4 linked regions of the Homo sapiens genome follow. The protein of the gene in region 3 purifies or fractionates together with the protein of the main gene of each other region. This does not show direct contact. Each region holds a gene or a part of one and is shown on either strand. Other genes may lie near its edges.

Evidence for each region.
Region 1: the proteins of SLC35G2 (region 3) and CDS2 purify together in Homo sapiens (affinity purification with mass spectrometry; one large-scale study listed by BioGRID and IntAct). This does not show direct contact.
Region 2: the proteins of SLC35G2 (region 3) and HIGD1A purify together in Homo sapiens (affinity purification with mass spectrometry; one large-scale study listed by BioGRID and IntAct). This does not show direct contact.
Region 4: the proteins of SLC35G2 (region 3) and NUP188 purify together in Homo sapiens (affinity purification with mass spectrometry; one large-scale study listed by BioGRID and IntAct). This does not show direct contact.

The regions. Positions count from the first base shown.
Region 1 is NC_000020.11:5,195,698-5,198,387, reverse strand, and holds the end of CDS2 (phosphatidate cytidylyltransferase 2), read right to left. Parts: 3' UTR 501-2,690; downstream 1-500. UniProt on the Homo sapiens protein: Catalyzes the conversion of phosphatidic acid (PA) to CDP-diacylglycerol (CDP-DAG), an essential intermediate in the synthesis of phosphatidylglycerol, cardiolipin and phosphatidylinositol.
Region 2 is NC_000003.12:42,790,991-42,794,490, reverse strand, and holds part of HIGD1A (HIG1 domain family member 1A, mitochondrial), read left to right. Parts: intron 1-191; exon of another isoform or gene 192-215; coding exon of another isoform or gene 216-237; coding exon 238-334; intron 335-3,500. UniProt on the Homo sapiens protein: Proposed subunit of cytochrome c oxidase (COX, complex IV), which is the terminal component of the mitochondrial respiratory chain that catalyzes the reduction of oxygen to water. May play a role in the assembly of respiratory supercomplexes.
Region 3 is NC_000003.12:136,824,564-136,830,147, reverse strand, and holds part of SLC35G2 (solute carrier family 35 member G2), read right to left. Parts: intron 1-5,584.
Region 4 is NC_000009.12:128,954,199-128,957,698, reverse strand, and holds part of NUP188 (nucleoporin NUP188), read right to left. Parts: intron 1,350-3,500; coding exon 1,265-1,349; intron 748-1,264; coding exon 667-747; intron 1-666. UniProt on the Homo sapiens protein: Component of the nuclear pore complex (NPC), a complex required for the trafficking across the nuclear envelope. Required for proper protein transport into the nucleus.

The sequences.
Region 1 (2,690 bases), on a different chromosome or scaffold from region 3:
AGATCACTCCAGTTACTGGCTTGTGTGACAGAACACATGGGTAGTTAGAGAACACAGGACTCAGGACATGGGTCATAGGTTTGGGTTTTATCATGCAAAGTCTGTGTGAGAGGCCTCACAGGCAGCTGGAAATGCAGGCCCACTTGGGCTAGAGACATGGACTTGGGAAGTGTTGAAATGAGTGTGGTGATCAGGATCCTGGGAGGGGGTGGGAACACCTAGAGGGGAGAATTCAGTGGGCGAAAGAGAGCCTCAGGCAGAATGCCACCACCCAAGGGATGGCCCAGAAAAGAGACACCCAGAAAGAAGACCGAGGAGGAGCAACCAAGGGCAGGAGGAAAGCCGGGGGGGCAGGTTGCCAAGGCCAAGGACAGAGGGAGTCTCTAGAAGCAAGCGGTGGTCAGCAGCATCCTGGGAAATAATGCTGGCTCCACATAAGCAACCAAACGTCCACACCCCTGGCCTTCCGCCACCCCCACCATCGAAAACCACACATGATCTAGAATTTAATATATGTTTATTTGTGTAGTAGGAACATTCAGGTATATAAATAAGGTAAATGCTTTCCAACGTACAGTATATCATGTTCTTACATTGCGTGGAAAAAGAACCTACATGTATTGTTCAACATGGATCACGAGTGCACAGAGAGAGAGATCAGCTGCATTTAGTGAAACGCCAAGTTGGGAAAATGGCACAGCAGTAGCGCACAGGCACACAGCTATCTGGGGAGGCTGTGGGGACTGTCACGTGGACTCTACACACCGAGAACTGCTTCAAGGTCGCCTGTGTCTGAGTGCGGGTAAAGTGAATATCAACACCCAGGCTATCAGGGTGAGACAACTGAATTCCATCATGTCCATCCACTTTACAAAGGGGTGGGAGGCACCATGGAGAAACTGACCAGAAATGCTCTGCCCTGTCACAGAGGAGACAGAGCCAGGGCAGACACGGCTGACCTCTGGGAGGCACAGACACTGGCAGTGATGGGTCCCATGGGATGCCTGGCACTCCCAGCACAGACAGCTCCCCAAAGCAGGTGGGGAGGCCCTTTCTGTGTTTGGGAACTTTTTAGTTAAACAAATCCTCAGAATCGAATTAAGAAGGATGTCCACAGCTCGATCAAAAAAAAAAAACCAAAAAAAAAAAAAAAACCACCAAGGTTCCCAAGATCCTTCAACAGAGGGGCTTCCCATCTGATCTTACCCTCCTGTTTCAGAAGGTATTAAACATCAATAAAAATTAAAATATATTATCAGTATCAACTCTAGAAGATAACCCATGGCTTCAAATCTCCCTGGACGGGTTCTCTGAGCCCAGATTTCTGGTCCCCAACTCGTATGACATCCAGGGCCAGCGAGCGTTCAGCTGGCATCTGTTAGAGTCTGCCCTCCACTGTGAGACTCCTGGCCCCTCCGTGGCCCTGGTATTCCTCCTGCTGCTGCCCCTAGGAGTCCTCCAGCTGGATAACAATAAACCAAACCGCTGTCTCCTAATCCCTGACTTGTTCTCCTGACTCCTAGTCCTTTGGTTTCATCGGCCCCTGATGTCTGTTCAACTCTTCCCCTTTGTAATCAGCCCCTAGCACCCAGTCAGCATGACGTAAGACAGAAAAACAGTTTACTAAAGGCCAGAGCCCTGTGCACAGAGGATTTAAAAGAAACAGCACCCAAAGGACACTCATGAAAACATGTATGCACATTCTGCCTGCTAGAAAACATTCTCAACCTCTTTTCTACTCTGCTGTTCCTTTAAGAAAAGCCAGCATACAAGAACCTAGCGCAGGTGTCAAAAAAAGGCATCCAAACTGCGAGGACAGAGGTGGCTATGTGGATGATTATCGGCAAACACAGTTTCACTAGAGACAAAATCACCAGGTGGCTAACCCTTCTGAGTGCTTTATGCAGGCAAGGTCCTCTGGGGGCTGCAAAAGGCTAGGCCCTGCCCAATGCCCGGGAGACCACTGCAAAGGCATTCTCTGCTTGATTTCCAGAGGGCCCTTACCACAACCCCCTCCCCGGCCCAGCAGTGGAGGCTTTCTATGGATACAAGGCTGCCTAGGTCTATTCAACAACACAATGAGGGAGGAAGCACCAGGCAAGGCAAACACAAACCCAGAAGGACAGGAGGGCTCGGGGGCAAGCCTGGGATTGGCCTGTCACAGCAGCTGCTTCCTAGAAACCCCCACAACCATCTTCTCCTGGTTCATGGCATTATCATTACTTCAGCAATTCAATGAAACAGAGGGACCATTATTTCCATACTATTAATAGCAATGTGCTGTTGGGTCCCACTAATACCCAGGAAATAATCCACAGTCAAACCAGTAGTTCAGTTATTATTCAACTGACCTAGGAATTTCATGGATCCTGTTAGCCAACACCATTCCTTCAAAGTGAGGCAGCCTCCCCTTACACACACGTGCCCCAACTCCCCACCCCCATTCAGAAAACTAAGTTCAAGAAACTCTTTTCATTAAGTCCTGTGCCTGTTCTCCCTTCATTCATGAGTCACCCATTTGAGTCTTTGCTAACCTAGAATCCGGCAGAAATACCTCACATCATGTGTCCTCAATGGGTCACCCACTTCTACCCGGTTACTACTTTTAGAAGGAAACATGAAGCTCCAGATTGGCTGCGTCATAAGGATGTGGGCAGAACTTCTAGGCTTTTAGTCTACATAATCCCCTA
Region 2 (3,500 bases), about 94 Mb from region 3:
CAAAATAATAGGGGGAATAAGTGTATACAACTCTCCCTTGAGAGTGACTGTACATTAAAAATACAGTTAATTTCTAAAAATATTTTTTAACTTTAGGATTATGGATAACATATACTAAGATTCTCATGGAAGTTAGGAATATTTTAAATACATCCAGATATTTAATAATGTTCAGATGCTTTTAATTACAGAACCTCATAGAAATTCTTTCTCAGGGAGATTCTTCAAGCAATCACTATGTCAACAGACACAGGTGTTTCCCTTCCTTCATATGAGGAAGATCAGGGATCAAAACTCATTCGAAAAGCTAAAGAGGCACCATTCGTACCCGTTGGTAAGTTTGACTGACATTTTAGTAGTCTTGAATATGGTAGAGCCGTGATAATTTGTTCATTTAGCAATATCCTGAAAGAATGTATTTTCCATTTTTTTCTTATGTTGAAATATGCTGAGATTGGCATGATATAAATCTCATCATAAAGATTCTTCTGTATGTATTCAGACTTTTTTTTTCTTTTTGGAGACAGGGTCTCTTTCACCTAGACTGAAGTGCAGTGGCTTGATCATAGCTCACTGCCCCCATCCCTCGACCTCTCAGGTTCTTGATCCTCCCACCTCAGCCTCCTAAGTAGCTGGGACCACAGGTGTGCACCACCACGCCCAGCGAATTTTTGTAGTTTTGTATAGACACGGGGTTTTGCGATACTGCCTAGGCTAGTCTTGAACTCCTGGGCTCAAGCAATCCGCCTGCCCTCAGCCTAGTGCTAGGATTATAGGCGTGAGCTGCCACTCCAGCTGAGACTTCTTATTTTATTGAGTCTTATTTCAGTGCATAATGTTGTATTGGGGGACCCCAAGACCATCCTCAGGTTAGATGATTGGGCCAAGACTCATAAGACTCAAAAATGCTTGTTACAGTCATAGTTTATTACAGCAATGGGATATAGGTTAAAGTCAACAAAGACATATAGAATGAAGTGTAGGATAAACCAGACACAAAATTCTAGGTGTCCCCTTCCCAGGGAGTCCCACAGGGGGAGAGGGGGTGCATTTAATTCTTCAGTACTGATGTGATATGTGGCAATACATGCTAAGTCTTGCCATCTAGGGAAGCCCACCAAGCCTTGGTAACCAGGTTTTATTGAGGTGTCAGCTGTGACTGAAATTAGCTATTCAGTCTCCTATCCCCCAGAGGTCGGACTCGCAGGCATATTAAAATTCATTTAATATGCAGTTAAAACAGATGAAAGGTGAAATTTATAGTATATAAATTAATCTTAAGAAAAAGTTTAAAAATTTTTAATCTTACAGAGAATTTTAAAATTACCTTTAATGCCACCATTTAGATATAACTGTTGTTACCATTTTGATGTACATATTTCTCCAGTTGTTTTTTCTTTTTTTATCTTCACAAATTCAGGATCATACTAAGATGCATATATGTATTATAATTTTTATCTCATGTTTTTAACTATGTTATTCGAAACTCGACTTTTTTTTTTTTTTCCGAGAAGGAGTTTCACTCTTGTTGCCCAGGCTGGAGTGCAGTGGCGCGATATCGGCTCACTGCAACCTCCACCTCTTGGGTTCAAGCGATTCTTCTGCCTCAGCCTCCTGAGTAGCTAGAATTATAGGTGCCCGCCGCCACGCCAGCTAATTTCTTTGTATTTTTAGTAGAGATGGGGGTTTCATCATGTTGGCCAGGCTGGTCTCGAACTCCTGATCTCAGGTGATCCACCTGCCTCGGCCTCCCAAAGTGCTGGGATTACAGGTGTGAGCCACCGTGCCTGGCCTAAAACTCTACTTTTTTTTTTTTTGAAACGGAGTCTTGCTCTGTCGCCCAGGCTGGAGTGCAGTGGCAGGATCTTGGCTCACTGCAAGCTCCGCCTCCCGAGTTCACGCCATTCTCCTGCCTCAGCCTCCCGAGTAGCTGGGACTACAGGTGCTCGCCACCACGCCTGGCTAATTTTTTCTATCTTTTAGTAGAGACAGGGTTTCACCGTGTTAGCCAGGATGATCTCGATCTCCTGATCTTGTGATCCGCCCGCCTCGGCCTCCCAAAGTGCTGGAATTATAGGCGTGAGCCACCGCGCCCGGCCAAAACTCCACTTTTAAGAATGACTTAATTTATATGATATAAATTACTGTTGTATATAACATTATTATAATCCTCTTGGTAGAAATTTATGTGATTTCTAATTTTTCATTATTAACAATTAAACTACTGAGCATCCTTTTAGATGGCTCTCCAAGAAGTTAAAGGACTTTGAAGTCTCTTGAAGGAATTTTTCTTCTGACCATATAATTAATAAGTTAGTTGCAAAAGTACATAAAACAGAAAGGTACCATGTCCTATGATCCCGACTCTGAAAGACAACAGCAGTCTGCACAGTCTGTCAGTGTTTTCTTCTCTGTGTACTACCATAAACTATTATTTATAATTATTTTTAGATGAAATATTTTTCTTTAGCCTTGTTCATTATCTTTTTATAACAATGCATATAGGAACATTTATATTTTTAATAATTGAATCATTAATTTTGTAGATATACAATGTTTTGTAACAGTGATCTATAAAATTTTTTGGTTGTATATTCCCTCAGTAAAAAATAATTTGAGCACGTACTTCCTGCCAGTGTGTTGTGTGTTTACCTATTTTTAAGTCATTTATGACTTTTAAGTCATTTAAGTCATTATGAAATACGCAGAAAGACATTTCAAAAGGATAAGATACAAATATAAAATTTTCTGCTCTTTAATGGGTTGTCATTTATACATATCCCTTCTTGGGAGTACATAAACCCTACATTGATTTAACCATTGCTGTATTGACGACATAGGAGTTGTTCCCATTATGTTGATTTTACAAACTGTTGGAAGACTGTGTGTGTAAAAATTAAATATCCTTATATACTTAATTGTACCAAAACAATGATTTACACCAATAGGCTGTGATGGGCTGGTTTTCCCATACTCTCAGTAGCACTAGATATTATCATTCTTTGAGCATCTTTTCATATGTATTGGTCATTCAGGCTTCTCTTCTGTGAATTAGCTTTTTTGTTTTTGCTTTTGTTTCTGTTTTAACTAGGATGTCTTTTTCTAATTAAATTATAATTATGTATTTTAGGTATTAATGTTTTCTTAATATGTTGCAAGGCCTTCATGATCCTGGGATTACTTAGGTTCCTGTATTTCCTTATGTTGTGCATTTATCATTGAGATACTAATCTATCTGGAATTTATTTGTAGGTATGACATGAGGCAAAATCTAACTTATTTTCCGTATGGATACTTTAATTTTCTATCACAGTGATTTGGGTATCTGTTTTGCATTCTTTTTCCACTTATTTGAAATGTGAACTATGTCATATACTAAACATATGAGAGATTTGTTACTCAACTACTGTATGTATTTTGTTGCTTTGATCTGTCTGCCAGAAACTTAGTGGTATGTTTAGATACCTCATAAGCCAGTACACTTTCACTATTCTACCTTC
Region 3 (5,584 bases):
ACAGAGGGAGACTCCGTCTCAAAAAAAAAAAAAAAAAAAAAAAGAAATAATGTATGTCTAAAAAATCTAGAAACAGCCTCAAAAGGGCAAATCTCAGAGTTATTGGCCTTAAAGAGGAGATAGTGAAAGAGATAGAGGTAGAAAGTTTATTCAAAGAAATAATATGAGAACTTCCCAAACCTAGAGAAAGAGATCAACGTTCAAGTACAAGAAGGCTATAGAACACCAAGCAGGTTTAACCCAAAGAAGACTACTTCAAGGCATTTAATAATCAAACTCCCAAAGATCAAGGATAAAGAAAGGATCCTAAAAGCAGCAAGAGAAAAGAAACAAATAACATATAATGGAGCTCCCATATGTCTGCCAGTAGACTTTTCAGTGGAAACCTTACAAGCCAGGAGATAGTGGCAAGACATATTTAAAGTGCCAAGGGGGAAAAAAAAAATTTACCCTAGAGTAGTATAGCTGGTGCAAATATCCTTCAAGCATGAAGGAGAAATAGTTTCCCAGACAAATAAAAGTTGAGGGATTTCATCAACACCAGACCTTTTCTACAAGAAATGCTAGAGGGAGTTCTTCAATCTGAAAGAAAAGAACATTAATCAGCAATGAAAAATAATCTAAAGGAGTCCAGGTGCGGTGGCTCACACCTGTAATCCCAGCACTTTGGGAGGCTGAGGCGGGCAGATCACAAGGTCAGGAGTTCAAAACCAGCCTGGCCAATATAGTGAAACCCCGTCTCTACAAAAACTACAAAAATTAGCCGGGCATAGTGGCGGCCGCCTGAAGTCCCAGCTACTTGGGAGGCTGAGGCAGGAGAATCGCTTGAACCCGGGAGGCGGAGGTTGCAGTGAGCCAAGATGGCGCCACTGCACTCCAGCCTGGTGCCAGAGCAAGACTCCATCTAAAAAAAAAAAAAGTCATCTAAAGGTACAAAACTCACTGGTGATAGTAAGCACATAGAAAAACATAGAATATTATAACACTATAATTGTGGTGTGTAAACTGCTCTTATGTAGAAAGACTAAATGATAAGCCAATCAAAAATAAATTTTCAAGACGTAGACAGTACAATAGATGTAAAGAGAAACAACAAAAAGTTAAAAAGCAGAGAGATAAAGTTAAAGTGTAGAGTTTTTATTAGTTTTCTTTTTTGCATGTTTATGCAATCTTTGTTGTCATCAGTTTAAAATAGTGGGTTATAAGACAGTATTTGCAAGCCTCATGGTAACCTCAAGTCAAAAAACATACAACAGATACACACACACACAAAGCAAGAAATTAAATATGCCACAAGAGAAAATCATCTTTACCAAAAGACAAGAAGGAAGGTAAAAAGGAAGAGAAGACCACAAAACAACCAGAAAACAAGTAACAAAATGGCAGAAGTCCTTACTTATTGATAACATTGAATGTAAACAGACTAAATTCTCCAATCCAAAGACACAGACTGGCTGAATGGATTAAAAAGCAAGACCCAGTGAATCTGTTTCCTACAAGAAACACACTTCACCTATAAAGAGACACATAGACCAAAAATAATAAAGGGATGGACAAAGATATTCCACGCCAATGAAAACCAAACAAGGACAAAAGTAGTTATACTAATATCAGACAAAATAGATTTCAAGACAAAAACTGTAAGAAGAGACAAAAAAGGTCATTATATAATAATAAAAGGGTCAATTCTTCAAGAGGCTATAACAACTATAAATAAATATGTACCCAGTGCTGGTGCACCCAGATATATAAATTAAACATTACAGGGAAAGAGAGAGACCTCAATACAATAATAGCTGGAGACTTCAACACCCCACTTTCAGCATTGGACAGATCGTGCAGACAGAAAATCAACAAAGAAACATTGGAGTTAATCTGCAATATAGAACAAATGGACCTAATAGATATTTACAGAACATTTCATCCAACTGCTGCAGAATACATATTCTTCTCATCACATGGATGATTCTCAAGGATAGAACACATGTTAAGTCACAAAACAAGTCTTAAAACATTAAAAAGGTTGGGTGCGGTGGCTCACGCCTGTAATCCCAACCCTTTGGGAGGCTGAGGTGGGCAGATCACCTGAGGTCAGGAGTTTGAGATCAGCCTGGCAAACATGGCGAAACCCCATCTCTACTGAAAATGCAAAAATTAGCTGGGCATGGTGGCGTGCACCTGTAGTCCCAGCTACTTGGGAGGCTGAGGCAGGAAAATCGCTTGAACCCAGGAGGTGGAAGTTGCAGTGAGCCGAGATCATGCCACTGCACTTCAGACAGAGCAAGACCCTGTCTCAAAAAAAAAAAAACAAAAACCCTGAAATGATACCAAGTATCTTCTCTGACCACAAGTAAACTAGAAATCAATAACAAGAAGAATTTTGGAAACTATACAAACACATGGAAATTAAGCAATATGCTCCTGAATGACCAATAGGTCAATGAAGAAATTAAGGAAATTGAGAAATTTCATGAAACAAATGATAATGGAAACACAACACACCAAAAGCTATGAGATACAGTGAAAGCAGTACTAAGACAGAAACTTACGGCTATAAATGCCTACATCAAAAAAAGAGGAAAAACTTCAAATACGTAACCTAATAACACATCTTAAAGAATTAGAAAAGCAAGAGCAAACCAAACCCAAAATTAGTAGAAGAGGCCAGCAATTTGAGAGGCTGAGGCCGGCAGATTGCTTGAGCCCAGTAATTTGAGACCAGCCTTGGCAACATGGCAAAACCTCATCGCTATAAAAAATACAAAACTTAGCCAGGCGTGGTGGTGCACACCTGTAGTCCCAGCTACTCAGGAGTCTGAGGTAGAAAGATCACTTGGGCACCAGGAGGTTGAGGCTGTAGTGAACTATAATCATGTCCCTGTGCTCCGGCCTGCATGACAGAGCAAGACTCTGTTTAAAAGGAAAAAAAAAAAACTTAGTAGAAGAAAATAAATAATAAAGATTAGAGCAGAAATAAATGAAATTGAAATGAAAATACATAAGGTCACTCAAACAAAAAGTTGGGTTTTTTTAAAAGATACACAAAGTTGACAAACCTTTAGTCAGACTAAGAAAAAGAGAGGACCTTCCCTCCACTATTGTCCTATGACCCTGCCAAATCCCCCTCTCCGAGAAACACCCAAGAATGATCAATAAATACTAAAAAAAAAAAAAAGAAAAAAGAGAGAAGATCCAAATAAATAAAATCAGAGGCAGCTGGACAAGGTAGCTCATGCCTATAATCCTAGCACTTTGGGAGGGTGAGGCAGGCACTTGAGCTCAGGAGTTTGAGACCAGCCTGGGCAACATGGTGAAACCTCATCTCTACCAAAAATATAAAAAATTAGCCAGGTGTGGTGGTGCATGCCTGTGGTCCCAGCTACCTGGGAGGCTGAGGTGGGAGGATTGCTTGAGCCAGGGGAGACAGAGGTTGCAGTGCATCACGACTGCACCACTGCACTCCAGCCTAGGTGACAGACCACATCTCAAAAAAATAAATAAATAATAAAATAAAATTAGAGATGAAAAAGGAGACATTACAACTGATACCACAGAAATTCAAAGGATCATTTGCGGCTACTATGAGCAACTATATGCCAATAAATTGGAAAATCCAAAGGAAATGGATAAATTCCTAGACACATATAAAACACCAAGATTGATCCATGAAGAAATTTGAAACCTAGACAGACCAATAACAAGTAACAAGATCAAAGTCATAATAAAATACTACTGATTTTTGTATGTTGATTTTGTATCCTGCAACTTTACTGAATTCTAAAGTTCTTTTCCTCCCCATAAAGAAAAGCCCAGGACCTCGTGGTGGCTCATGCCTGTAATCCCAGCACTTTGGGAGGCCGAGACAGGCGGATCACGAGGTCAGGAGATCAAGACCATCCTGACTAACACAGTGAAACCCCTGTCTCTACTAAAAATGCAAAAAATTAGCCGGGCATTGTGGCGGGCACCTGTAGTCCCAGCTACTTGGGAGGCTGAGGAAGGAGAATGGCGTGAACTCAGAAGGTGGAGCTTGCAGTGAGCCAAGATCGCGCCACTGTACTCCAGGCTGGGCGACAGTGTGAGACTGTGTCTTAAAAAATAAAATAAAATAAAATAAAGAAAAGAAAAGCCCAGGACCTGATGGCTGAATTCTACCAAACATTTAAGGAAGCATTCTAATCCTATTCAAACTGTTCCCAAAAATAGAGGAGAGAATACTTCCGAACTCACTCTATGAGGCCAGTATTACTCTGATACCAAAACTAACAAAGACGCATCAAAGAAAGAAAACTACAGGCCAATATCTCTAATGAATACTGATGCAAAAATCCTCAACAAAATACTAGTAAAGCAAATTCAACAATACATTAAAACAGTCATTCATCATGACCAAGTGGGATTTATCCCAGGGATGCAAGGATGGTTCAACATGTGTGAATCAATCAATGTGATAAATTATATCAACAGAATAAAGAACAAAAATCATATAATCATTTCAATTAATGCTGAGAAAGCACTTGATAAAATTCAACATCCCTTCATGATAAAAATCCTCAAAAAACTGGGCACAGAAGGAACATATCCCAGCATAATAAAAGCCATATATGGCTGGGCAAGGTGGCTCATGCCTGTAATCCCAGCACTTTGGGAGGCTGAGGGGGCGGGTCACTTGAGTCCAGGAGTTTGAGACCAGCCTGGCCAACACGGCAAAACCTTGCCTCTACTAAAAATACAAAAAATTAGCCTTGGTATGGTGGTGCATGCCTGTAGTCCCAGCTGCTTGGGAGGCTGAAGCATGAGAATTGCTTGAACCTGGGAGGGAGAGGTTACAGTGAGCCAAGATGGCACCACTGCACGCCAGCCAGAACAACAGAGCAAGGCTCTGTCTCAAAAAAAAAAAAAAAAAGTTATATACGATAGACCCACAGCTAGTATCATATTGAATGGGGAAAAACTGAAAGCCTTTCCTTCAAGATCTAGAAAAAGGATGGCCACTTTCACCACTGTTATTCAAGACAGTACTGGAAGTCCTAGCTACAGCAATCAGATAATATAAAGAAATAAAGGACATCCACGTTTGCAGGGACATAGATGAAGATGGAAACCATCATTCTAAGCAAACTATCACAAGGTCAGAAAACCAAACACCGCATGTTTTCACTCATAGGTGGGAGCTGAACAATGAGAACACATGGACACAGGGTGAGGAACATCACATACCAGGGCTGGTAGGTGGGGAGTCAGGGGCTGGGGTAGGGATAACATTAGGAGAAATATCTAATGTAAATGACGAGTTGATGGGTGCAGCAAAGAAACATGGCACATGTATACCTATGTAACAAACCTGGACGTTGTGCATATGTACCCTAGAACTTAAAAAGTATAATTTTTTTAAAAAAGCAAGAAATAAAGGACATCCAAACTGGAAAAGCAGATGACAAATTATCCTTGTTTGCAAATGATATGATCTTATATTTGGAAAAACCTAGAGACTCTGGCAAAAAACTGCTAGAACTTTAGAATTCATTAGTAAACTACTGTTTACAGATAAACAAATTCAGTAAAGTTGCAGGACACAAAATCA
Region 4 (3,500 bases), on a different chromosome or scaffold from region 3:
AGGTCAGGAGATTGAGACCATCCTGGCTAACACGGTGAAATCCTGTCTCTACTAAAAACACAAAAAATTAGCCGGGCGTGGTGGCAGGCGCCTATAGTCCCAGCTACTTGGGAGGCTGAGGCAGGAGAATGGCGTGAACCCGGGAGACAGAGCTTCCAGTGAGCCAAGATCACGCCATTGCACTCCAGCCTGGGAGACAGAGCGAAACTCCATCTCAAAAAAAAAAGAAACTCTACCAAATCCTTATCACCTCTAATAGCCCAAGATTCTATGATTAACATGTCAGTCTTTGACCTCTCCACTCCTCCAAGTATGAAGACAGATCTCAGCTTATATGCATATATATTCTTTACTTTTTAAAGAGATAGGGTCTCACTCTTTTGCCTAGGCTGGAGTGCAGTAGTGCGATCACAGTTCACTGCAGCCTCAAACTCCTGGACTCAAGTGATCCTCCTGCCTCAGCCTCCCAAGAAGCTGGGAGTACAGGCACAAGCCATTGCACCCAGGTCATGTTTTTTTTAAAGCCTTTAGTAGGTCTTCCCTGAAGATGACGGTACCTGATCACCTACCACCGATAAAAGAATTGGTGCCAAAATCCTACATTATCTAAAACCAACAGGGAAAAAGGATAAAGGCAGAAGAAAGGAGCTGACATAAACCACAAACCTTTACTGAGTCCCGAGTACCCCTGTAGTCCTCTTGCAGGTAACACTGGAGTAACTGCACACTCTGTTCTTCATCAAGACCCTGAAACACAGAGATTTTAAGTAAGGAACAGCTCAGAAATCGCACACAGGATGCAGAGAATTTAAAGATTTGTCTTCTACAATGAACACAGGACTTGAATAAACAAAAATGCTTCTCAAAGATTCATAAAACATAACAATTCTGACTCTAATAGAAGACAAGAGCCAGTCACTGACATACAATTTTTATTACAATTAAATGTACATGCCAGAAACAACGATGCTTATTCACTAAGCACATTAATACAGCAGTAGGCATGATGTGAGCTTCCAAAATGACAAACTTAGTCACCTTAAAGACCACCACATGTCTGGTGAAGAAAACCCTATGATATGCAGTGAATGGATCAGGCAACTTTGACTTGTAACTTTTAGGGAGAAGAGTTGCAACCTGGGTATTTATAAAACAATTTAATCCCCAAAACAAAAAGAAACTGAATTTTCACTATCACTAGCAATATAACCACGCACATCCACACTGCAAGTAATAAATTGAGCGAGTGCTAATTTTTACTCACCAAAAACTTGCTGATTCTTAAACCCAGTTCCTTCAATGGTGAAGCTACATCTTTATTAGCTTTCACTTTTTCAGCTGAACTTGGACTACAAAAAGAACAGTGAATCATTTCTTCATTCTCAATAGCCCACTGAGTTTAAAATAAAAATATTTTAAAATATTTTTCCTACAGACTATTTTCTGCCCTTCAGATGCCTATAAACACACACACAAACACACACACGCACACACACACACACACACACACACACACCCATTCACCTCTACAAACTTCATAACGCAGAACTGGTTATGCCTAACAAAACAAAACAAAAAAAAAGTGGTTAAATTACAGTTATAACAATGTTATTTGTAAACACATTAAGTTACATTATTTTTGATCCTTACTACTGCCCTAAAAGGCAAATATTACTATTCTCCTTTTACAAATGGAATTGCCAGCACTTAGGGTAAATAACTTACCAAAAATCCCACAGCTCATAAACAGTTGCTAAAATTTAAAACCAGGTCTGTGGCATACATACATATATTAATATATTATCTGTAATAGCTCTGTCCACCGAGAAGGCCTAGAATTTATAATACTCCAACAGCAGGAGGTACATGCAGCACCCAGATCCTGCTTTATAATACCATTCTCTAATAACAGGATTCCTTGGAGAATTGGTTGATTCTAGAGTCAGGGCAAGGAAAATACAAGAAAATCTTGAAGCATCTTATAGTGAAAAGAAGTACAAAAGGGCTTAAGAAACCAAAGTCCTTTCGGTAGGAGATGACATAATAGAAAAAAAAGAAAAGAAAAAAAGAAAAAAGGAAGGACACGCCCAAAGGACAGAGGCCAACCTAAAAGAATGCCCAATAGCCAAAGCTGAAACAAGGTATAAACAAAGTATAAGATAAATAAAATAAATATATTTGAGTCTATACTGATATAAACTAATGAATAAATAAATAGGATAGGGAGGGGCCAGAACAATGGCTCATGCCTGTAATCCCAGCACTTTGGGAGGCCAAGGCAGGAGTGTAGCTTGAGGCCAGGAGTTTGAGACCAGCCTAGACAACAAAGTGAGACCCTCATCTCCACCAAAAGTGAAAAAAATTAGCTGGACATGGCTATATTTAGTACTCACTTCCAAAAAATAAAATAGGAAAAGAGAAAAAAGTAACTTTACAGAGGAGAAACTTGGCAAATGCCTCCTTAACTGAGTGACCAAGATTAACATTACCAGTGATTTCATGTGGACAGCATGTACTCTCTGCTATGATGTGGTAAGAAGGGTAGCTTGGCCAGGCGTGGTGGCTCACGCCTGTAATCCCAGCACTTTGGGAGGCTGAGGCGGGCGGATCACCTGAGGTCAGGAGTTCAAGACCAGCCTGACCAATATGGTGAAACCCTGTCTCTACTAAAAATACAAAAATTAGCCAGGCATGGTGGCATGCACCTGTAGTCCCAGCTACTCGGGAGGCTGAGACAGAATTGCTTGAACCCAGGAGGCAAAGGTTGCAGTGAGCTGAAATCGCACCATTGCACGCGAGCATGGGCAACAAGAGCGAAACTCCATCTCAAAAAAAAAAAAAAGAAGAGCACCTCACCTCTGTGTATTTTTCCCAAAAACTCACAACCCCAGTCTAATAATAAGGAAAACATCAGACAAACCCAAATTGGGGGCATACTACAAAATAACTGACCAGTCCTCAAACTTGTTCAAGGTCATGAAAATCAAGGTAAGACTAAGACATTGTCGACATTGTCACCGGCCGCGGTGGCTCACGCCTGTAATCCCAGCACTTTGGGAGGCCGAGGCGGGCGGATCATGAGGTCAGGAGATTGAGACCATCCTGGCGAACACAGTGAAACCCTGTCTCTACTAAAAATACAAAAAATTAGCCAGGCGTGGTGGCGGGCGCCTGTAGTCCCTGCTACTCGGGAGGCTGAGGCAGGAGAATGGCGTGAACCCGGGAGGCAGAGCTTGCAGTGAGCCGAGATCGTGCCACTGCACTCCAGCCTGGGCCACAGAGCGAGACTCCATCTCAAAAAAAAAAAAAAAAAAAGACTAAGACATTGTCACAGCGGGCGCCTGTAGTCCCAGCTACTCGGGAGGCTGAGGCAGGAGAATGGCGTGAACCCGGGAGGCAGAGCTTGCAGTGAGCCGAGATCGTGCCACTGCACTCCAGCCTGGGCCACAAAGCGAGACTCCATCTCAAAAAAAAAAGACTAAGACATTGTCACAGCTAAG